Linked DNA regions of Homo sapiens. The protein of the gene in region 2 binds, or shares a complex with, the protein of the main gene of each other region. Links are inferred from orthologs where the notes say so. Each region holds a gene or a part of one and is shown on either strand. Other genes may lie near its edges.

Region 1 (12,571 bases), on a different chromosome or scaffold from region 2:
GGCTAATTTTTAATTTATAATTAACACTAGCCACTTAATTATTAAGTTTGTCACTTTTTTTTTTTTTTGAGACGGAGTCTCGCTCTGTCACCCAGGCTGGAGTGCAGTGGCGCGATCTCAGCTCACTGGAAGCTCCACCTCCCGGGTTCACGCCATTCTCCTGCCTCGTAGCTGGGACTACAGGTGCCCGCCACTGCGCCCGGCTAATTTTTTGTAGTTTTAGTAGAGACGGGGTTTCGCTGTGGTCTCAATCTCCTGACCTTGTGATCTGCCCGCCTCGGCCTCCCAAAGAGCTGGGATTACAGGCGTGAGCCACCGCGCCCGGCCGTCACTAAATATTTTTTAAAATATGGACTTTTTTGGCCGGGCATAGTGGCTCACGCCTGTAATCCCAGCATTTTGGGAGGCCGAGGCAGGTGGATCACAAGGTCAGGAGATCGAGACCATCCGGGCTAACACAGTGAAACCCCGTCTCTACTAAAAATACAAAAAGTTAGCTGGGCGTGGTGGAGGGTGCCTGTAGTCCCAGCTACTCGGGAGGCTGAGGCAGGAGAATGGCGTGAACCTGGGTGGCGGAGCTTGCCGTGAGCCGAGATTGCGCCACTGCACTCCAGCCTGGGCGACACAGAGCGAGACTCCGTCTCAAAAAAAAAAAAAAGGACTTTTTTTTCTTTTTCAAGACAGAGTCTCCCTCTGTCGCCCAGGCTGGAGTGCAATGGCACGATCTTGACTCACTGCAACCTCCGCCTCCCGGGTTCACGCCATTCTCCTGCCCCAGCCTCCCCAGTAGCTGAGATTACAGGCACGTGCCACCACACCCAGGTAATTTTCATATTTTTAGTAGAGACGGGGTTTCACCATGTTGGTCAGGCTGGTCTCCAACTCCTGACCTCAGGTGATCCACCCGCCTTGGCCTCCCAAAGTGCTGGGTTTACAGGCATGAGCCACTGCACCCGGGCAAAATACGGACTTTTAAAAAACTTAAATGGGACGCCTTTATCTGTATACTTCATTTATTTTTTCTAAAGTTAATGGGTAATATAATTACAGGATTCAAAAATTCAAAGCAAGACAAAAAGGTATATACTGAAAAATCTTATTCCTATCCATTTCCTAATCTACTCAGTTCTTCCTTGCCCTCAATAGGCAACCCTTTTTAAATGTTTATTTCCCCAGAATTCCATTTTTCAAATATTGGCAAACATGAATATATTACTTTGTCTCTATCACAAAAGGTTGGTACACATGATTTTGTGTTTTTTTTGCTATTTTGTTCTTTTTGCTACACACTTTGCTTTCTTCCGTTAACAGTACAGACAGGTTCCTCATTCTTCTATTTACAATTAGTTGCATATTATGCAATTTGATGGGTTTTCCAGAGTTTATTTAGTCCTGTCTCCCAATCTCCCAACCTGGGTTATTTTCAATCTTTTGTTGATAAGTAAACAATGCTGCAAAAAATAACCTGCATATATATCACTTCATATTAATACAGGCACCTACTGATGGGACTAAACAGGGCTCTGCGCATGACAGGTAGTAAGAGCACAAGGAATTCTATAGGACAGATTTCCAAGAGCAGAACTGCTGGATCAAATGGTAAGTCCATCTGTTGTATTGGTAGATAACTGCCAGATTCCCTTTGATAGGGGTTGTGCCATTTACTTTTATATTTTTGCCAAATGGAATCTCAGTGTAGTTTTAACTTGCTTTTTTTCCCACCTAAAGATTGAGCATCTTTTCATATATTTAAAAAATGTTTTTCCTTTTCTGTGACCATCCATCTGTTCTGCCCATTTTTCTACTAATTTATTTTTATCTTTTTCTAGGAGCTCTTTATGTATTAAGAAGACAAGCCCTTTGTCTATGAGTTGCAAATCTTTTTCCCAAGTTTGTTGTGTTTTGACTTTGCTTATGGTGTTTATTTCATTGTGCAGAAATTTTTTGTTTATATAATCTTTTTTTAAATTAAAAAAATTTTTTTTTTCGAGAGTTTCGCTCTTGTTGCCCAGGCTGGAGCACAATGGCACGATCTCGGCTCACGGCAACCTCCGCCTCCCATGTTCAAGCGATTCTCCTGCCTCAGCCTGCTGAGTAGCTGGGATTACAGGCATGCGCCCCCACGCCTGGCTAATTTTGTATTTTTTAGTAGAGATGGGGTTTCTCCATGTTGGTCAGGCTGGTCTCAAACTCCTGACCTCAGGTGATCAACTCACCTTGGCCTCCCAAAGTTTTGGGATTACAGGCATGAGCCACCGTGCCTGGCCTTGTTGATATAATCTTATCAATCTTTTCTTCCATGGCTCCTAGACCTTAAGTCATAACAAAAAAAAAAAAGGCTGTCCTACTCCAACAACAAAATAAATCCATTATCTTTTCTTCCTGAACTTACATGGTTTAATTTTTTTAATATGTAGATCTCAGGTTTATTTGGAGTTTATCCTGGTATATAATACTTGATCCAAATTTTTCAGTGGCTACCAGTTTTCCTAACATTTACTAAAAAGTTATTTACCTGAGTCTTTAATCATATTAAATACTTCCTAACACTTTCTTGTGCCATCCCTACTCTCGGACTCCACCTGTCCTTTGAAGCTCAACTGAAATTCCGTATCTTTTCTGAAGATTGATATTTTCTCTTTATTTATTTATTTATTTTTTGAGACAGATCTCCCTCTATTGCCCAGGCTGGAGTACAATGGCGTAGTCTTGGCTTACTGCAACCTCTGCCTCCTGAGTTCAAGCGATTCTCCTGCCTCAGCTTCCCAAGTAGCTGGGACTACAGGTGCACGCCACCACGCCCAGCTAATTTTTGTATTTTTCATAGAGATGGGGTTTCACCACATTGGCCAGGCTGGTCTCAAACTCCTGACCTTATGATCCACCCATCTCGGCCTCCCAAAGTGCTGGGATTACAGGCGTGAGCCACCGTACCCGCCATTTTCTCTTTATTTTTAAAAATACTGACTGAATAAGCAATATGACACTGTATAAATGGGAGAAAATAAAAAATTGGAAGTTCGAATGAGAATACTGTAAAAGAGGCGGGGTGCAGTGGCTCACACCTGTAATCCCAGCACTTTGGGAGGCCGAGGCGGGTGGATCACGAGGTCAGGAGTTCAAGACCACCCTGGCCAACATGGTAAAACCCCGTCTCTACTAAAAATACAAACATTAGCTGGACATGGTGGTGCATGCCTGTAATCCCAGCTACTCAGGAGGCTGAGGCAGGAGAATTGCTTGAACCGGGACCTGGAAGGCAGAGGTTGCAGTGAGCCGAGATCGTACCACTGCACTCCAGTCTGGGCTACAGAGGGAGACTCTGTCTCAAAAAAAAGAAAAAAAAACTATAAAAGAGGAAGATTAAAAATATTCAATTCTATTTGATTTATCCTTAACAATGCTATTTATATTCACTTTCAAACCCCTAGAATGACAATGTTTACTAATTGCAGAACATAAGGCTTAAAACATTAAATGTTATGCCATAACTGAAAAAAGTACCAATAGCCTAAAATTCCATCAATAGAAGATCAAGTAAATAAATTGTAGTTCTAATACACAGGGAAATATTACACAGAAATTAGGAAGAGTGAGATCAATTCAGATGCAATGATCTGGAATCCTATCTGAGGGACTCTGTAAAGGGGTCAAGGGAAAGGGACTGTTCTGTTTTATGGGGGGAAAATGTTTATAAATGCATAGAAAACTCCTGGAAGAACAGAAAGTGTTAAGTGGTTGCCTCTCTCTGGAGCCTGGGACTTGGGGTAAAAGAGGACAGGTGAAGGAAAAGTCCATTTTATTTCTCATTTTACATCCTTTTAAAAACTATCACATATAACTTTTATACTTAGAAGAATAAACTTAAATTTAATGCTGAACACTAAGGGTTTAAATGGGTAGGCACATTTACATAAGCATTTTTTTTTTAAGGGCAGAGAGGAAAAAAGCATGAATCATCATACCCAGAAGTTACCTGAACAATGGTGAATCCGGATCTAAGAATAATATCTTGTATCTCCTCCTCTTTGTCAACAATATCTGGTTTGATAATGGCCAGAGTTTTTTCTACATATATCTGAGGTGGAGGCATTGATATCTCCATTATGGCTTTTCAGGGCACAAATTAAGAGTTTCTTAACAGGTATCAACTGCAATGACATGCATTTCCCCCCACCCCCATCGCAAATTCAATGTAATTATGATTAAGAATAGCAATAGTAGGTACTTGATTTTATTAACTGATGAAGGTAGAAACTGCCATGTTTTTCTATATACAGGGTCTCAATAATAGGATTCCTACTATGTCCAAATCGAGCCCCGGCTTTTCGTATACGATGTCACCAAGGCAGGAAGGACTATGGGCTCACATAACCAGAGGCCAAGGGGCGACCCGAAGGCCTGGAACCAGCAACAGCCCCAGGCAGCAGAGGGCGGTGGGGCGGGTGGTGGGGGCTCGAGGGGGCGGTAGAGCGGGTGGTGGGGGCTCGAGGGGACGGTGGCTGGTGGGCAACCACACACCATTACAGCGGCGGGTGAGCGGCCTCGGCCAGCTGCCTCTGTGAAGCGACCCTGTCCCGCAGGGACCTCTCTGTGCATAGGGTCAGGCTAATTGAAAAGCAGGGCCTCTAGGTCCGCGGGGACTTTCCGGGTTGCACCTGCAAATTCTGAATTTGACCCTCTCTAAGTACTCACCTCAGCGGCCGTCCTCATATGGTACAACTTGTTGCTAGGAGACCTGAAGCCCCAGCGTGGGGACGGTGGCTGCAGAGAGCCAATCCCAGCAAGGAACCTTGCAGCTTCTGGCCAGTTCGTTTTAACCAAAGGGAGCCAGCCAGTCACTTTTATTCTCCTTGTGAATCTTAGAGCACTAGATGTTTTCTGACATTTTACTCATAATTTATCTTATTTCATCCTTCTTCCCGTTTGAAGGATGCTTCAATTATCCCTACTCTATAAATGATAAGAACCCCTCCCCCAACCATTCCTTTCCAGGCGGTATATGTAAATGACCCGTGTCAGATACCTTCGTTTCACCAGATGATGCTGTGCCCTCTATGCCCAGCTTATCTAGTCATTAAAAAGCAATATTCCTATTGTGTAAATACATTTATTTATAGAGTAAAAGGCTTAGAAAAGATCTAATGGAATTGTCTTTAAATCAAGCCGATGGAACAAAGATGTGGGCAACATTTATGGCATAAATCCAAACCTCAGCTTCCCCTTTTTTTCTTTATATTATGTCCACATGCATCTTTGACTCGTTGGTTGTGAGTTAAGGTATTATTCTTGTTGGAAAAGAAAATGAGGACATGGCAAAGAAGTACCAGGATCCTCTCTAGGTCAGAGTTCCGGGAGAGATTCAAACTCTAGAAAAAGTCAGGATAGCAGCTCCAGGTTAGAAAACAGGTTTTCCATCATCCACTGGGTTAGCTGGTTCTCCTTCCAGACTACTTGAGCCTTTTCTTTTGTCTAACCAGATATTCAGTACCTAAAGGGTTAAGGAACACATAGCAAGCTATTATGAACCTTAAACACTAAAGTATTGCAAGTTTATTTTTTTGGCAAATAGACTCAACTATACTTTTTTCTTTAAAGTATGATGCTACCCAGAAAAGAAACCCACAAATGTCTTCTAGCTACTATATCTTATCCCCTAAAGATGGGAAAGTGTGAACGTACATTAATAACAACAGATGAAGCAACCAAAAAATACACAGTGACTCCAGCCTCTTTGGAGTTTAGCCCTTGACTTGAGGCTCTGGAAGCGGGAATTCCCATTACTTGTCTATCCTCAGCTCTCTTGAGAGCTCTTCACTGCTGCCTGCATTCCTAGACTACTTCACTATCAGAGCTGGACTTACTGAGGCTCAGGGTTTTCCAAACCAGCAGGCACATTATCAATCCTTCAGGGCCTTAATCACCTTTAAAAATAAACTCTGAGAACACAGTCACCTCGAAATCACCTTTATTCTCATAGGCGTTCTGAAATCAAGATTCCAGAGGCTACAGGTATCTGCATACAGTACCTGAATCTGCTCCAGGACTTCTTGCCGCATCTCCACAGCCATATGGTATACATGATGATCAGAGTCATTGTACATTACAGCATTTTGGAACATCAGCATCAGGTCTCGCAGGAATTGGGCCATGGTGCGAATCCGACCCTTAGAGAGATTTCTCTTCAGGCTAGTTAAGTCCATGGGTCTGCAGGTGGCCAAGAAAAAACAAAGAAAATCAAACCTTCATGTGGAACATATGATAACCTAACACGTTCTCTTGAAGAACTAACCAGTTCTTAATGAAAACAGTAGCAAAGATAACAACCCTCATCAGATAATAAAATAGCAACAGCAGTTAATATTTGCCTGTTTACAATGGGCCAAACACTGTATTTCTATACTAACTCACTTAATCCTCTCAATAAACCTGTAAGGTAGGTATCATTAATATCTCATTTTTTTTTTTTTTGAGTCGGAGTTTCACTCTTGTTGCCCAGGCCGGAGTGCAATGGAGCAATCTCAGCTCACTGCAACTTCCACCTTCCAGGTTCAAGCAATTCCCCTGTCTCAGCCTCCAGAATAGCTGGGATTACAGGCGTGCGCCATCATGCCCAGCTAATTTTTGTATTTTTAGTAGAGATAGGGTTTCACCATGTTGGTCAGGCTAGTCTCGAACTCCTAGCCTCAGGGGATCCACCTTCCTTGGCCTCCCAAAGTACTGGGATTACAAGTGTGAGCCACCGCCCCCGGCCTTATTATCTCCATTTCACAGATGAAGAAATTGAAATCTAAAGAGGTTAAGTACTCACTGAAAGGCACACAGCCTGAATTCCAATTCAGAGGCAGCCTGACTCCAGAGCCCACAGGTCAAGCCACTATATTCTACTATCAGAGGAGGAGTGCTGGCCCCAGGTATCAAAGTTGTAAAGAGCACCAATCATCAGTTTATCACACAGTAGTTATTTGCTGTTTACAATGTATAGTCATATATTATTTCATCTACTTCTCTTACTGCACAAATAAAAAGCTAAGAATAATTTTTTTCTCCTTTCATGGAGATGAAAAAAGGATCAAGTGAATATTAAGACAATATTAATGAGACACAGAAAGTAGATATATAAGAGAAGGCACAGCAGTGTAGAAAGAAGACTGAACTGCAGGTAAGAATCTGGGGCTTAGTTCTAGCTCTGCTATTAACTGTTGGTTGATCACGAGCAAGTCATGACCAAGCACCTCTGAGCTTTAGTTTCCTCATTCCTAAAGAAGTTTGTCTCTGCTGTTTGAATGATGGTATCATTGTCTCTGCTGTTTGAATGATGGTATCCCCTCCAAAATTCATGTTGAAACTTAATCCCAAGTGCAACAGTATTAAGAGGTGGAGCCTTTGGGAGGTAATTAATTCATGAGTGCTCTGCCTTCATGAATGGGATTAGCATCCTTATAAAAGGGCTCCATATCGAAGAGAGTGCCCTCTTATCCTTCTGTCCCTTCTGCCATGTGAGGATACAGCATTCGTCCCCTCTGCAGAATACAACAACAAGGCATCATCTTAGAAGCAGAAGCAGAGAGTAACCCACCTCACACACCAAAACTACCAATGCCTTGATCTTGCACTTCCCAGCCTCCAGAACCAAAACAAAGAAACATAGATTTCTATTATTTATAAATTATCCAGCCTGTGGTATTGTGCTATAGCAGCACAGACTAGTGACTCTCCAAAGGTCCTATCATGATCTTTTACATTCTATTACCATACAGGTTTATGACAGCATTTTAGATGACCTATGCTATAAAAACCCAAAATAGGCCGAGCACAGTGGTTCAAGCCTGTAATCCCAGCACTTTGGGAGGCCGAGGCAGGCGGATCACGAGGTCAAGAGATTGAGACCATCCTGGCCAACATAGTGAAACCCTGTCTCTACTAAAAATACAAAAATTAGCTGGGCGTGGTGACGTGTGCCTGTGGTTCCAGCTACTCAGGAGGCTGAGGCAGGAGAATCACTTGAACCCGGGAGGCGGAGGTTGCAGTGAGCCGAGATCTCATCACTGCACTCCAGCCTGGTGACAGAGCAAGACTGTCTCAAAAAAAAAAAAAAAAAAAAATCCAAAATAGGCTAGGATTACCTGCCTGTAATCCCAGCATTTTGGAAGGCTGAGGTGGGAGGATTGCTTGAGACTACGAGCTTAAGACCAACCTGGGCAATCTAGTGAGACCCCATATCTACAAAAAATTTAAAAATTCCTCCTCAGTGATATTCTGAAGAAAAATAAAGTTATTAATAACATTTCAAACAAAGAAAATATTTTATTATAATAAAAATATCAGGCCAGGCACAGTGGCTCACACCTGTAATCCCAGCACTTTGGGAGGCTGAGGTGGGTGAACTGCATGAGCCCAGGAGTCTGAGACAAGCCTGGGCACCATGGTGAAACTCTATCTCTATAAAAAATACAAAAATTAGCCGGGCATGGTGGCACACACCTCTAGACCCAGTTATTAGGGAGGCTGAGGTGGAAGGATTGCTTGAACCTGGGCAGTTGAGGCTCAGTTATCCAAGAAATGTGCCACTGCACTCCAGCCTGAGCAACAGAGTGAGACCTGTCTCAAAAAATAATAGTAAGTAAAAATTTAAAAAATAATAAATTTAAAAATTAGCTAAGTGCAGTGGCACATGCCTGTAGTCCCAGCTACTCCGGAGGCTGAAGTGGGAAGATTGCTTGAGCCCAGGAGGTCAAGGCTGCAGTGAACCATGATTGCACCACTGCACTCCAGCAACAGAGTGAGACCCTGTCTCAAAAAAATTTTTTTAAATAAAAAATAAAAATAAAATCCCAAAATACTGAGAGGTGAAGCTGGCTGGGCTTCTGGGTTGGGTGGGACTTGGAGAACTTTTCTGTCTAGCTAAAGGATTGTAAACACACCAATCAGTGCTCTGTATCTAGCTAAAGGTTTGTAAACACACCAATCAGCACTCTGTAAAAACGCACCAATCAGCGCTCTGTGTCTAGCTAAACATTTGTAAATGCACCAATCAGCGCTCTGTGTCTAGCTAAAGCTTTGTAAATGCACCAATCAGCACTCTGTAAAAACGCACCAAAAAAGGTTTGTAAACGCACCAATCAGCACTCTATAAAAATGGACCAATCAGCACTCTGTAAAATGGACCAATCAGTACTATGTAAAATGGACAAATCAGCAGGATGTGGAGGAGGCCAAATAAGGGAATAAAAGCTGGCCCCTCAAGGCAGCAGTGGCAACCCGCTGGAGTCCCCTTCCACACTGTGGAGGCTTTGTTCTTTCACTCCGCAATAAATCTTGCTGCTCCTCACTCTTTGGGTCCGCACTACCTTTATGAACTGTAACACTCACCGTGAAGGTCAGCCGCTTCGCTCCTGAAGCCAGCAAGACCACGAACCCAACAAGAGGAATAAACAACTCCGGATGTACCACCTTTAAGAGCTGTAACACTCACCGCCAAGGTCTGCAGCTTCACTCCTGAAGCCAGCGAGACCACCAACCCACTGGGAGGAACGAACAACTCCAGAGGCGCCACCTTTAAGAGCTGTAACACTCGCTGTGAAGGTCTGCAGCTTCACTCCTGAACTCAGCGAGACCACAAACCCACCGGGAGGAAGAAACTCCGGACACATCTGAACATCCGAAGGAACAAACTCTGGACACACCATCTTTAAGAACTGTAACACCACGAGAGTCTGCAGCTTCATTCCTGAAGTCAGCGAGACCAAGAACCCACCGGAAGGAACCAATTCCGGACACAATACTACAATCAACCAATGTTCATAACTTCCATTTGGATCGACATCTGTGCCTTACTATACCTATAACTAACTGAATAAATACAGGGTTCCTTTTAAAGTTTTGCTCCAAAAGAATAGTGTCAAAAACAACCAAAGGCTAATTTAAGATTATAATTAATGATCAGGCTGGACACCAAGGCTCACACCTATAATCCCAGCCTTTGGAAGGCCTAGGCAGGTGGATTGCTTGAGCTCAGGAGTTCAAGACCAGCCTGGGCAACATGGCAAAGCTCCGTTTCTACAAAAAATACAAATATTAGCCGGACGTGATGGCTCATGCTTGTAGTCTTAGCTACTTGGGAGGCTGAGGCTGGAGAATAGCTGAGCCTGGGAAGAGGATGTTGCAGTGAGCCAAGACTGTACCACTGCACTCCAGCCTGGGCAACAGAGTGAGACCCTGTCAAAAAAAAAAAAAAAAAAAAATATATATATATATAGAATGGATCATATTACTTAAAAGTCAATAGTACAAAATAAAAAGCCTATATCATCCTTTTGTTCCCTGCATTCCTTCTTAAATGAAGATATGATACTGAGCTCATCATAACTTTATAAACTTGTTTGGCTATGAAACATATCTTGAGTTTGTAAGTTATAAAAATAATCTAACAGATGGGAAATAAAAAATGAAAAGGCAGATATAAAAGCAACCAACCTTTCTTGACCCCTTTTTCACTGACCTTTTCACCACATCCTTGTACCCTGGGGCCTGCCTTTCTGACACAGGCTTCAGAAATGGACTGCTGAACCTGTTAAGGGACAAACCCAGAGAGGATAAAGAAACCCTGGCAAGGCACTCTGAAGGAGAAGAGTAGCTCAGTTCTTAGTAGACTTCCTTTAGGGGAATGCAGACTGTCAGCACCATTAGGAAAAAATCTATTTGTTCCCTCTTGCCAGAGAGTTAAAAAAAACACAAAACTATAAAATATTTCACTATTATTACAATATACTGATTTAGGGCTCAGAAATTTGTTCAAAGTTCCCAAGGCCCTGTCTCTGTGAAAAAAGAGAATCCACCAGATTGAAAAGAAGAATATACATTTTAAATATAAATTTTATCATGTAGTAGGAACCAATTTCTAGAGGCAACTCAAATGGCACAGCAACTATTTCTTGTACAGACTTGTGAAAGCAGCTGTGGGTACTTTGGGATAAATCGGGCTTAGATACAGAATCTACCTTTCAACTATGGCTCATTTGAGGGATGAACATATCTCCTTTTATGCTTAAACCCCAATATGTATTACTGCTTCAGCTCTGAACATAATCCTATTACCACTTTGGAGACCTACCTGTGACTGGCAATCATCTTCCAGACTGGCAGGAGAGTCTTCTTAAATAGCAAATGATCCTGAACAGGGTCATCCTGGCTTAGATCAGTCCTATGAGGATAAAACATGAAGAAAAGAGACAGTAACTTCACAAATAATATTCTATCTCCCCCAGGTGGGTAATGAGGTTTTCTTAAGACATGCTCCTAATTAATATCTGAAGCTTTTTATCTCCCCTTATCTGGCCAAGCAGACTTAGTTATTAATATCTATTGTTTTCTCTTTTAATTTTTTAATTTTATTTTTCTGAGACAGAGTCTTGCTCTGTTGCCCAGGCTGGAGTGCAGTGGCATGATCTCAGCTCACTGCAACCTCTGCCTCCCGGGTTCCAGCGATTCTCCTGCCTCAGCCTCCCAAGTAGCTGGGACTAAAGTTGCATACCACCACACCCAACTAATTTTTGTATTTTCCATAGAGACGGGGTTTTGCCATGTTGGCCAGGCTGGTCTCAAACTCCTGGCCTTAAGTGATCCACCCGCCTCAGCCTCCCAAAGTGCTGGGATTACAGGCATGAACCACCATGCCCAGCCAATTTTTTTTTTTTTTGAGACAGGGTCTTGCTCTGTTGCCCAGGCTGGAGTGCAGTAGTGTGATCGTGGCTTACTGCAGCCTCAACCTGCTGGGCTCAAGCGATCCTCCTGCCTCAGCCTCCCAAGTAGCTGGGACTCCAGGCACATGCCACCACGCCCTGCAGCTAATTTCTGTATTTGTTGTAGAGACAAGGTCCCACTACGTTGCCCAGGCTGGATATCTACTGCTTTCTAATAAAGATTTCATATTTAATCTAAATTGTAAGGTAAGAATGTGGAATTTACCATCCAAGACTATGAACTGTCATGAGATAAGATGTCTCAGATTGGGCCCGGTGTGGTGGCTCACGCCTGTAATCCCAGCACTTTGGGAGGCCGAGGCAGGCGGATCACAAGGTCAGGAGATTGAGACCATCCTGGCTAACACGGTGAAACCCCGTTTCTACTAAAAATACACAAAAAATTAGCTGGGCGTGGTGGCGGGTGCCTGTAGTCCCAGCTACTTGGGAGGCTGAGGCAGGAGAATGGTGTGAACCTAGGAGGCAGAGCTTGCAGTGAGCCGAGATCACGCCACTGCACTGCAGCCTGGGCGACCGAGCGAAACTCCGTCTCAAAAAAAAAAAAAAAAAAAAAAAGTCTCAGATTGCAGATTTCCTGCTGTTTGTACAGTCACAGTATGTCATCTCTGCACTCTATTGCTCATACTTAAGGAGTTAAAGAAAAGCAAATGAAGGCATTCCTCACCAATCTACATTTTAAACTGTATCCTATTTGTGTACCAAAAATTGAAATCTAGGCTGGGCACAGTGGCTCAGGCTTATAATCCCAGTACTTTGGGAGGCTGAGGTGGGATTGCTTGAAGCCAGGAGTTCAAGACCCAGCTTGGGCA
Region 2 (11,663 bases):
AGTTTTCTACCTCAATATCAGGGATAGGAGGTTAGTCAGAGAAGCTATTTGCCAGGTCTATATTTTTCTTTCTATCCACATACTCAAATAATAGGCTTCTTTCCCCTTTTTAAATATGTAAATTTGAGTCAAGACTCTGGGGTTAAGTATTATCTGGTAGAACTATGGAAGTGGCTTAAATTTAGCTTAGAAGCTCTCTATAAATTAAATCAGTCCAGAAGCCATTCTGGAACTTTCCTCTCTCCAGCTTGTACTCCATGACCCATCCCTTCAACAATTCCCTTACCAATATCTTCAGCTCCCTAATCATGCTACCCCAATCCTGCTTCAATTAAAAGGTCTGCCTGCTCCACTTCTTCACTCAGACATCTGGGCCCAAGTGAAGAGAATCACATCATCACATAACCAAATCAAATGGCACGATTATCAGTACTTGATCTTCAACTGCTACCAAGTAATGCTAAATTATATCCCTCAACTCTCTCTTCCATTCTCCAAAGCTGTCATTTCTAACTTCACCACTCTGCCCACACCTCCTACCTTACAACCTTGTTCTTAGCAAGTGAACATGGTGCCTACTTCATAAAGAAGACAGAAACAGTTGTACGCAGAAGGTGCTTCCACCAACACCATTCTCTCCTCTTTCCCTTGATTATAATCAAAGAAGTGCCTTCTCCCTGCCCAACCTATGATCCAGGCCCATTTCCTCTCATCTCCATGGTGAGCTGACCCTACGAATCATCCACTCTATTTCCTAATGTCACCCACTCACTCCTCCACTACTGTGCTCTTAAATCAAAACAAACACAAAAACATCTCTCCTTGCTATCAAAATCTCCTTGAAAGCATTGCCTACATTTTCCACCTCCCCTGCCTAAGTCCACCCACCCCCACCACTCCATCCACACTGTTCCCGCCAAATTACGGTGGCCTCTCATGAACACTTTTCCATTCAGCAATAGATATGGTTGACCACTCAGATCTCACCAAAACAGTCTTTCCCTTTGCCTTCTGTGACAGCACACTCTGTATTTTCCTCTTACCTGGAGGTATGGCATCTTTTGTATCAGCAACAACAGTGTGGAAAGGAATGTGTATATGTGTATACAAGAATGCACTCAGGAAAACTCATGGCTGCTGCTTCTCCAGCAAAGAAGACACACACATCCATAAAGATGAAGATATTAGGAAGCCATATCTAAATAACTGGAGCTGGGAAGTTTATCAACATTTAGGCTGTGCCATGCTGAGGTTGGCATCGTTAATTCCAGTCCCCTCTGAACTCTCCTACTTGCCTCACCTGCTGAAGTAAGAGCTCCTCTGCTTTGAGCCTCTCCATCATTTCCTGCTCCATCAGAGCTAATTCTCTTTCACGCTCCAGCTTGGCCATTTCCTTTTGTCTCTAGCATTGTTTAAAAACAACAGCACACGACTTCTTAGCGAGAAAGCAATTTGTAAAAGCAATCTTGAAAGCACTTAATAGGAACAATTAGGGAAAGTGTTAAGCAAATTATAGCCCATCCCTGTGGAAATGATATAATAATTTGGGAAGATATTTTATCTGAATAATGAGCACAATATTAAAGTTATACATTGTGTATGATCACAAGTACATAAACGTAAATCTATAAATCTATAGAAAAAAGACTTCCCATGAAAGGAATTACCTAAAAATCTAAATAGAAGTCTTCTTTGGGTAATGTTTTCTCCTTCCTGCTTTTCATGTTGTTCAAGTTTTTGTATAATAAACATTATTTTTATAACAGAAAAATAATAATGTTAAACTTTTTTAAAAGCAGACAAGTTGGACCAGTTTTTTTTCTTCTAATTTCCTAGAAGGAGATTCCTACTTACCAGTTGTTCCATGGTCACATTTTCCTTATACTTGTAAATCCACAATGCTAAATATTCTATCGGATCCACTGGGCGAACTCTTGCCACTTCTGCAAGACCTTGAGTTAAACAGGCCCCAAGGTGCTTTTGAAGATATATTGACTCCATTTCTAACTCCTAAAAAGTAAGTGTTTTTGCATTACTGCAGGATATTTTCAATAAAGTCACTATAAAACTAAAGTCCAGTGAGGTGAACAAAGCCTTACATACACCCTGCCCTCAGTCATGGACACCTCCCATTGGGGGTGTCACAAGCAAGCTGGCCCCAGGAAACTTCTAATAGTTTCCAAAAGGGCTCCAAGGAAGTCACTACAACTAACATGGTTTCAAAATCCTGAAGGACTCTCAAGTCCAAGAGTCAGAAAAGAGATATTATCATTATTGATTCCAAGTTTACTTGATGCCAAGTAATGTGGGTCTCATGTAATCCTCACAACATACCTGAAAAATGGGTATCATCATCCCAGTGGGAAGATGAGCAAGCCCAGGCACAGACAGCGTAAGTGCACAGTTCAGGATCACACAGCTGGCAGATGAAGGAGACAGGGTTTGTACCCACCTCTTGATTCCAAAACCCTAACCCTAAAGACTACACTAAAATGTTCCTCCTAAGCCATGAGAGCCGTTTTTACAAAGCATCACAATAGTCCACCTTTTGAAAAAAAAAAATCCATAAATTTCCAAGGCCAAAGAATAAAAACTCAGCCTCCAAATAATAACATATGAAGCTCCTCACAATCTGGCCCCAATTTTCTTTTCAAGTTCACCTCCAGACATCATCTCTCCTGGCCCCAGCACACCCTGGGCTCTAATTCCATGGACATGTCTGGCTAATTTTTTTTGTATTTTTAGTAGAGACAGGGTTTCACTGTGTTAGCTAGGATGGTCTCGATCTCCTGACCTCGTGATCCGCCCACCTCGGCCTCCCAAAGTGCTGGGATTACAGGCGTGAGCCACCGCGCCTGGCCGACCAGATTGTTTTTAAAACAGAAAAGGAAAAATGGAGCAACCAATCTCTTTCAGATGCTTTGGAAAAATTGATCACCCTCAGATTACCCTTAATATTTTAAGAAATCGGCTGGGCACAGTGGCTCACGCCTGTAATCACAGCACTTTGGGAGGCCGAGGCGGGCGGATCACAAGGTCAGGAGATCGAGACCATCCTGGCTAACGGATCTCCTTCATCTGCCAGCTGTGTGATCCTGAACTGTGCACTTACTCTGTCTGTGCCTGGGCTTGCTCATCTTCCCACTGGGATGATGATACCCATTTTTCAGGTATGTTGTGAGGATTACATGAGACCCACATTACTTGGCATCAAGTAAACTTGAAATCAATAATGATAATATCTCTTTTCTGACTCTTGGACTTGAGAGTCCTTCAGGATTTTGAAACCATGTTAGTTGTAGTGACTTCCTTGGAGCCCTTTTGGAAACTATGTGAAACCCAGTCTCTACTGAAAATACAAACAAATTAGCTGGGCGTGGTGGCGGGCGCCTGTAGTCCCAGCTACTTGGGAGGCTGAGGCAGGAGAATGGGGTGAACCTGGGAGGCGGAGCTTGCAGTGAGCCAAGATCGTGCCACTGCACTCCAGCCTGGGCGACAGAGTGAGACTCTGTCTCATATATAAAAAAAAATATATATATATATATTTTTTCCTGAGAATCTGATGAAATGTAATCAATTGTTAAACAAATGTATAATGAATATTTGCCGGGCACAGTGGCTCACACCTGTAATCCTAGCACTTTGGGAGGCTGAGGTGGGTGGATCACCTGAGGTCAGGAGTTCGAGACCAGCCTGGCCACAATAGTGAAATGCTGTCTCTACTAAAAATACAAAATTATCTGGGCGTGGTGGCACATACCTGTAATCCCAGCTACTTGGAAGGCTGAGGCAGGAGAATCACTTGAACCCGGGAGGCAGAGGTTGCAGTGAGCTGAGATTGTGCCATTGCACTCCAGCCTGGGCAACAAGAGTGAAACTTCGTCTCAAAAAAAAAAAAAAAAAAAAGAATACCTATTATAGGTCAGGCACCATGATAGGTACTGGGAATACAAAACTATTGTGAATTGAATATCTGTGTCCCCCAAAAATCCATATGTTGAAATCCTAACTCCCAATGTGATGGTATTAGGAGCCTTTGGGAAGTGATTAGATCATTAGTGTGGAGCCGTCATGCATGGGATTAATGCCCTTATAAAAAGAGATGGGAGAGCGTGCTCTCACTCTCTGCCATCTGAGAATAAAACTAGAAGACAGCCACCTGCACACCAGCCAGAGGGTCCTCACCAGACACCAGAAATGCCAATGCCTTGATTTTAGACTTCCCAGCCTCCAGAATGGTGAGAAATAAATGTGTATTGTTTTTAAGCCACCCAGTGTTGGTAATTTGCTACAGCAGCGCAAACTAAAACAAAAACAGTCTCTGCCTTCATGGAGCTTATAGATGAGAAAGGAAGATAAATATTTAAATCAATAAATATGAAATTGCAGTTAAAATAAGTACTATGAGACCAGACAAGAGGAGTAGCTGATCAAGTCAGGAAAGTAAAAAAAAAGCTTCTTTGGGGGTGACATTTGAGCTAAGCTTACATTTACTGAAAAAAAAAAACAGTAAAATTAACACGACAAAGAAGAGAAGAGTCTTCTAGGTATGAGGAAAGGCCCTGATATAGGAATGAGCATGGCAATTACAGGGGATAGAATGCCACTGTGTCTAAACTTGTCCCTGGACAAATGCATCTAGCATTTTGCATAAAATTTCAGAGACAGTGACATCCTGGGGTCCGTCCATAACCCCCAATTTTTATTCTATGGATGAACCCCAGGATGTCAGTGTCTCTGAAATTTTATGCCATAACTATGTGCATATGCCATATGACAGTGGTGGGAGGGCAAAATGGTATAACTCCTATGGAGGAGAATTTGACAACATCTAGAAAATCACATATGCATTCACCCTTTGACTCATCAATCTTGCTTCTTGGATCCTATCTCAAAGATATAGTTGCAAAAATATGAAATGGCATATGCACACAGTTATTTGCAGCATTATTTACAATAGTCACACTGAAGCACCATCTAAATGTTCATCAAATTGGGGATTAATAAGAGCAACACAATGGATTATTATGCAGATGTACAAGAGAATGAAGAAACTAGAGAGTGATCTCTAAGACACAGAATAAAGAAAACGAGGTGCTGAAATTGTATATGGTCTGTCATCTTTTGTATTAGCAACAGCAGTGGGGAAAGGAATGTGTATGTGTGTATATGTAAACATAGTCATAAAAACTCTAAAAACGGAAAACAAACTGGCACAAATGAACCTAATTCCAAATGAGGTTGATATTGGTGTCTCAACCATACAGAGAAAAGAATTATTACAACTGACTTTGGAACACAGTATCTTCACTGTATTTCTTCAGTAGGATATACCTGAAAGACCAAAACGCTACACAGACATCTCAAAGTCATTTGAAGTGAAGTTAAAAAAAAAAAAAAAAAAAGGTGCACAGACTCCTGTTGCTGCTCCAGAAGGATAAAATGTGGGAAGGGAGGAAGGGGACCATTATCCCTAAAGAGAAAACTTCTGGCCTACCAGCGGGGCCAGGTCAGGGGAGGCTCTGTCTCGGATTTCTGGGCATATCAGTGGGACCCAGGCAAGGCCTGCCAACTCCCTTAGCATGTTCCTGTCTGTGAAACGAGGATAATACCCATCTCTCCTGTGGTAAGCAATGTTATTTTTCACATACACCAATAGGCATCTTGGCTCAACATAAGAAAGCCCTTTCCCACAGAAACAGCTGCCTCCAGCGTGAAGAAGGTGCCACAGAGATGGAAGGAGATTCCTTACCCACACCTGGGAGACAGCTAGCCAGCCAGCCAGCCAACTGGGCGGGGGCACCCGGGCAGGGGTGCCAGATACAGTATTGTATCTGGCAACCTCCCGGGGCGCTCAGTGTGGTTTTCCCACCCGGGAGTCTGGAAGGGTCTCCCGCAGCCCGCAGGAGACGCAGCGCTCCCCGCTCAGGGGGAGCAGGAGGACAGCTGGCCGCTTTCGGGAGCCCCAGGCGCGAAGCGGCCTCTCTCCGCCTCAGGTGAGTCCTGCTCGACGCCCAAGGCCCAACGGTCAGAACCGCCTCTGCCCGCCGGACCCAGCGAAGCTAGGGGAACAAATCCCAAAAACAGTTCGGGCCTTTCCGGTGCGCTCACCCCTACACACGCGCCTGCTCGCCACCCAGGAGCGGCGTCCCGTTGCCAGGCAACGAGAGCTCGCGCCTCAGGAGCCAGTGTAGGCGCCGCAAAGCGGAAGGGGCGCGCGGATAGGTGAGCAGAGGGCACGCGGTGGGCAGCGAAGGGGGAACGCGCAGCAGAGAGGAGAGGGCGTGCAGGAGTAGGAGCAGGCGGCAGAGTAGAGGGGGCGCGGCAGAGTAGAGGGGGCGCGGCAGAGTGGAGGGGGCGTGCAGGAGTAGGAGCCCGCCGCAGAGTAGAGGGGGCGCGGCAGAGAGGAGGGGGCGTGCAGGCGCGGGGCGCCCGGCAGAGAGAAGGGGTCGTGCGGAAGGGGGCGCGCGCCAGGGGAGGGGGCCAGAGAGGAGGGGGCGTTCAGGAGTCGGGCCTGCGGCAGAGATGAGGCGGTGTGCAGGAGGGAGAGCGCGCACGAGGGGGCAACGGGCAGAGAGGAGAGGGAATGAAAGAAGGGGAGCGTGGCAGAGAGAAGCGGGCGCGCTCCAGGGGGCGGGGTCCAGGGAGGAGGGGGAGCGTAGGATCGGGGCGGGAGGCAGAGAGGAGCGGGCACGCGGGACGGGCGTGTGCTCGTGAGGGGTCGAGGAAAGGCGTATGTGGAGGCGCGCGGGGTGGGTGAGCCGAGGAGACTTGCTACACAGAAACCTGGAGGAGTAGGGGCACACAAAAGAGCAAGGGACCCTGACTGGCAGCCCGGCATGCTCTGGGAGAGACAAAGAGGTGGCGGGCTTTGAGGAGGAACCAGGAAGGGCAGCCAATCGGAAAAGGGTGGAAGACCTTCCAGAGTCCCTGGAAGACCGTCACTGCAAGCTGCTAATAGCTTGGCAGTTTCACAACTCTGCACCTTTGCTCTTGCTGGTGACCTCTGCTTGGTTCCTTTCAGAACCAATTCGGGTGCCCCACCACCGGGAAGCCGTCCAGTCTCCACCAGGCCCAAACCCTTGCAGTCTTCCCTGGCCTAGTCGTCTGTGCATGTGCTAGCCTTTCCTGTGCTCTCTTTCAGCTTATGGGCGGGGCAGTGCCAGGCAAGAGAGGCCTTAATAGATGTTAGTTGAGCTAGTAAATGCCAGATTGGGCGTGGAAAAATCAAAGGGAAGCATGAGGGCAGGTGGCAGAACTCTCTCAATGAATAAGTCAAGAAATATTTACAGAGCTCCCAGTGTGCCAAGCGTGGGCGGTATACAGTAAACAAAGACAACCCCTATTCTTATCACCTTGCCTACTGAGTGCAAGTCCAGGAACTGTGTAAGCAGACCCTCAGAGGAGCTCTGGGAAACACTGAAAAATAGCCTCTCCCCCCATTGGTGAGTGTACCCTAAGTTGGTCTGAGTGGGCTTTAAAAGGCATCCCCTTGGCCAGGCGCGGTGGCTCACCGCCTGTAATCCTAGCACTTTGGGAGGCGGAGGTGGGCGGATCACCTGAGGTGAGGAATTCAAAACCAGCCTGGCCAACATGGAGAAACCCCATCTCTACTAAAAATACAAAAATTAGCCAGGTGTGGTGGCGCACACCTGTAATCCCAGCTCCTCAGGAGGCTGAGACAGCGGAATTGCTTGAACCAAGGAGGCAGAGATTGCAGTAAGACGAGATTGTGCCACTGCACTCCAGCCTGGGCGACAGACCAAGGCTCTCTCTTAAAAATAAAAAATAAAAGGCATCCCCTTGACTCCTTCCCCTCCAGCCCTCAGATTATGGCTCTATGCTGGCTCTACTGTCTTTGTACCATATTTTAGCGACTGTTGGGCAAACACATTTCCTTCAGATCATTGTTGAAAATGGGCAATTTAGAGTAGGGGGAGGTATGCCAATACGGCTTGCCACATGTAACCAGTGTGGCAGCCACCCCCTGACTAGAGAATGCAGAGTTGGTGATTCTGCCTTCGGGGAAGGACAGTTCTACAGTGATCCAGGCAAAGTAGATTGGTAACTACAGGTCGCTTGGAGATTTTATTAACATGCAGGTTCTGAATCTGTGGTGGGACCTGAGATTCTGCATCTCAACAAGTCCCAATGTGTCCAGAATTGGTGGGTTCTTGGTCTCACTGAGTTCTAGAATGAAGCCGTGGACCCTCACAGTGAGTATTACAGTTCTTAAAGGCGGCGTGTCCAGAGTTCGTTCCTTTTGATGTTCGGATGTGTTCAGAGTTTCTTCCTTCTGGTGGGTTGCTGGTCTCCCTTCAGAAGTGAAGCTGCAGACCTTTGCAGTGAGTGTTACAGCTCATAAAGGCAGTGCAGACCCAAACAATGAGCAGCAGCAAGATTTACTACAAAGAGCAAAAGAACAAAGCTTCCAGTGTGGAAGGGAACCCAGAGCAGGTTGCAGCTGCTGGCTCAGGCAGCCTGCTTTTATTCCCTTATCCGGCCCTACCCACATCCTGCTGATTGGTTCATTTTACAGAGAGCTGATTGCTCTGTTTTACAGAGAGCTGATTGGTCCATTTTGACAGGGTGCTGATTGGTGTGTTTACAATCCTTGAGCTAGACACAAAAGTTCTCCAAGTCCCCACTAGATTAGCTAGACACAGAGCACTGATTGGTGCATTTACAAACCTTGAGCTAGACACGGGGTGCTGATTGGTACATTTACAAACCTTGAGCTAGACACAGAATGCTGATTGGTGTATTTACAATCCCTTAGCTAGACATAAAGATTCTCCAAGTCTCCACTAGACTCAGGAGCCCAAATGGCTTCACCTAGTGGATCCCGCATCAGGGCTGCAGGCGGAGCTGCCTGCCAGTCCCACGTAGTGTGCCCGCACTCCTCAGCCCTTGGGCGGTCGATGGGACCGGGCACCGCGGAGCAGTGGGTGGCGCTCATCAGGGAGGCTCCGACAGCACAGGAGCCCACGGTGCGGGGGAGGCTCGGGCATGGCGGGCTGCATGTCCGGAGCCCCGTGGGGAGGCAGTAGAGGCCCGGCAAGAATTCGAGCAAAGTGCTGGCAGGCCGGCACTGCTGGGGGACCCAGCACACCCTCTGCAGCTGCTGGCCCAGTGCTAAGCTCCTCACTGCCTGGGGCCTGCAGTGCTGGCCGGCTGATCCGAGTGCGGGGCCCACCAAGCCCGCGCCCACCCGGAACTTGCGCTGGCCTGCGAGTGCCACACGCGGCCCCATTTCCCGCCCGCGCCTCTCCCTCCACACCTCCCTGCAAGCAGAGCCGGCTCCGGCCTTGGCCAGCCCAGAGGGGCTCCCACAGTGCAGCGGCGGGCTGAAGGGCTCCTCAAGCATGGCCAGAGTGGGCACCAAGGCCGAGGAGGTGCCAAGAGCAAGAGAGGGCTGCCAGCACGCTGTCACCTCTCACCCAGGTGATGGAATGCTGCTGGTCATCTGTCGTCAGACTAGCTTTGAGTAAGAGGGGTGTAGAAGTTTGTTTATCCAAATGCATTGGTTCAAGTGGGCCACACAGATTGGCAGGAGACACCACCCACCTCTGTCCCCACCCTCCATCACTACCCCACTCAATTTTTTTTTAATTCCCTTACAGGTCTTGGGGTCAGAAGTCCAAAATGAATCTTATAGAGCTAAAACCAAAGTGTCAGCAGGGCAGGTTCCTCAGGAGGCTCTGGGGAGAATCCATTTTCTTGTCTTTTCCAGCTTCTAGAGGATACCCTTGGCTCAAGGCCCTGAATCACATCGCTTTTTCTCCCTTGGCTCTGTCATCACCTTCCCTGTCTGACCGTACTGTGTCCCTCTTATAGTGACACCTGTGATTACATTGTTCCTACTCAGATAATCCAGGATAATCCCCCTATCTCAAGATCCTTAATTTAATCACAGTTACAAAGTCTCTTTTGCCATTTAAGGTGACATATTCATAGTTTCCAGGTATTCAGACATAGACACATTTGGGAGCCATTATTCAGCCCTAGAACAAGGACATTCTCTTACTCATATTTCCATTATTCAAAATTAAGAAATTTAACTTGGATAAATTATGTCACATAATCTACATTTCACATTCAGTTCAACCAATTTTCCCAACAATGCCCTTTATAGAATTCTTTCTTCTTCTTTTCTTTCTTTCTTTTTTTTTTTTTTTAGACAGGGTCTCGCTCTGTCACCCAGGTTGGAGTGCAGTGGTGAGATCTCAACGCATTGCAGCCACAACCTCCTGGGCTCAAGTGATCCTCCCACCTCAGCCCTGCCCCCAACCCCTCCAAGTAGCTGGGACTGCAGGTGTGTGCCATCACACCTGGCTAATTTTTGTATTTTTTGTGGAGACAGGGTTTTGCCTTGTTGCCCAGGCTGGTATCAAACCCCTGAGCTCAAGTGATCCTCCTGCCTCAGCCTCCCAAAGTGCTGGATTTATAGGCGTGCACCACCATGCCCAGCTGAATTATTTTTTCTTGTCCAGGCCCAATCTAGGATCATGTGTTACATGTAGTTATTATGGCTGTTCAATCTCCTTTGATCTATAACAGTTACTCTTTTTTTTTTCATACCCTCAACATTTTTAAGAGTACAGGGTAGTTGCTTTGGATTTATTTGATGTTTCTTCAATTACATTCAAATATTGCATTTTAGGCAGGAATCCACGGAAATGTTTTATGTACCATAAGAAGTGCATCACATCAGGAGGCAGTTGATGTCACTTTGTTCCTTTGTTGGTGATGTTTACTTTGATTACTTGGTTAAGGTTTTGTTGGCCAGGTTTTGCCACTGTAAAATTTCTGTATTTCCTTTGGAATTAATACTTAATTTGTGAGAAGAAACTTTGAGACTATGCATATATCTTATTCCTTGTCAAATGATCACCCAGGTTTAGCACTCATTGACTCATTGATGATCCTGCTTTGATTCAGTTATACTATGGTGGTGAGGAAATGGCAGTTTTTTAAAACTCCATTATTTTCCCCACATTTATTAGTTGGCATTCTACTTTAACAAAGAACTTTGCCTTCTCCCTTCTTAATCTACTTATATATTCTCATATGGACTCATGGATTCTTATTTTATTCTGTAAGTTATAATCCATTACAGTCACTATTTTAATGGTCAAACTGCCCCAGATTTGACTAGTAGGAGCCCCTTCAAGCTGGCTTCTCTGTCCCCAACGATTGTATTTTTTAGAATTTTCTTACTTTCTGGCACAACAAAATGTTCCAGGCTCGTTAGGCTTGTCCTGCCCCAGCCTTGGAATCAGCCATTTCTCCAAGGAGCCCTGATTCCTCTTAAGTGATGAAGGCTATTTACAAGCAAGGTTTATATGCTTAGCGTGCTCATTGCTACTGAAGTGTTTTGGTTTCAAGGCCCTTGCAGTGGAGAGAGCTAGGAAATATTTTTTCCTATGTCCATAAGATAGATATGTATAAGATAGATATGGATATCTGTCTACTTGTTTTTCCTTCCTTAAGCTAAAATATGAGAAGTAGGGGGACAAATTGAAAAATGCCTCCAGAAAATGTTAAGGCTAGATCTGAGCTTTTATTATTTGCTGGGCTCTTTTGGAATTAAAATGTGTCAACTTCAGGAATATGGACTCCGTCAGGAGGAGGCCAGGTCCTAGGTTGTTTCATGGCACAAT

Evidence for each region.
Region 1: the proteins of DYDC2 (region 2) and NME5 are in contact, whole or in part, in a cryo-EM structure (PDB 8X2U), measured with the Mus musculus proteins. The link is inferred for Homo sapiens from one-to-one orthologs. Residues at the interface, in NP_001347537.1 of Mus musculus: Asp2, Tyr5, Leu6, Cys9, Phe10, Gly13, Leu14, Leu18, Val21, Ala22, Arg23, Val24, Arg25, Pro26, Asp28, Pro29, Ile30, Glu31, Leu33, Ala34, His35, Leu37, Tyr38, Tyr40, Arg41; in NP_542368.2 of Mus musculus: Arg140, Ala145, Val146, Ile147, Ile151, Pro152, Ala156, Ala157, Tyr160, Ile161, Tyr164, Val165, Thr168, Leu169, Leu173, Leu176, Cys177, Lys180, Pro181, Asp183, Pro184, Tyr185, Leu186, Leu188, Ala189, Asp190, Leu192, Met193, Asn196, Pro197.

What each region holds. Positions count from the first base shown.
Region 1 is NC_000005.10:138,134,676-138,147,246, forward strand, and holds the start of NME5 (nucleoside diphosphate kinase homolog 5), read right to left. Parts: upstream 4,754-12,571; 5' UTR 4,714-4,753; coding exon of another isoform or gene 4,696-4,713; exon of another isoform or gene 4,229-4,695; intron 4,111-4,228; 5' UTR 4,106-4,110; coding exon 3,977-4,105; intron 1-3,976. Other genes in the region: BRD8 (bromodomain-containing protein 8), read right to left, coding at 5,399-5,491, 6,030-6,207, 10,502-10,570, 11,114-11,203. UniProt on the Homo sapiens protein: Functions as part of axonemal radial spoke complexes that play an important part in the motility of sperm and cilia. Does not seem to have nucleoside diphosphate kinase (NDPK) activity.
Region 2 is NC_000010.11:80,350,601-80,362,263, forward strand, and holds the start of DYDC2 (DPY30 domain-containing protein 2), read left to right. Parts: upstream 1-6,180; 5' UTR 6,181-6,225; intron 6,226-7,292; 5' UTR 7,293-7,445; intron 7,446-8,268; exon of another isoform or gene 8,269-8,299; intron 8,300-8,325; exon of another isoform or gene 8,326-8,345; intron 8,346-11,663. Other genes in the region: DYDC1 (DPY30 domain-containing protein 1), read right to left, coding at 1,301-1,402, 1,855-2,001.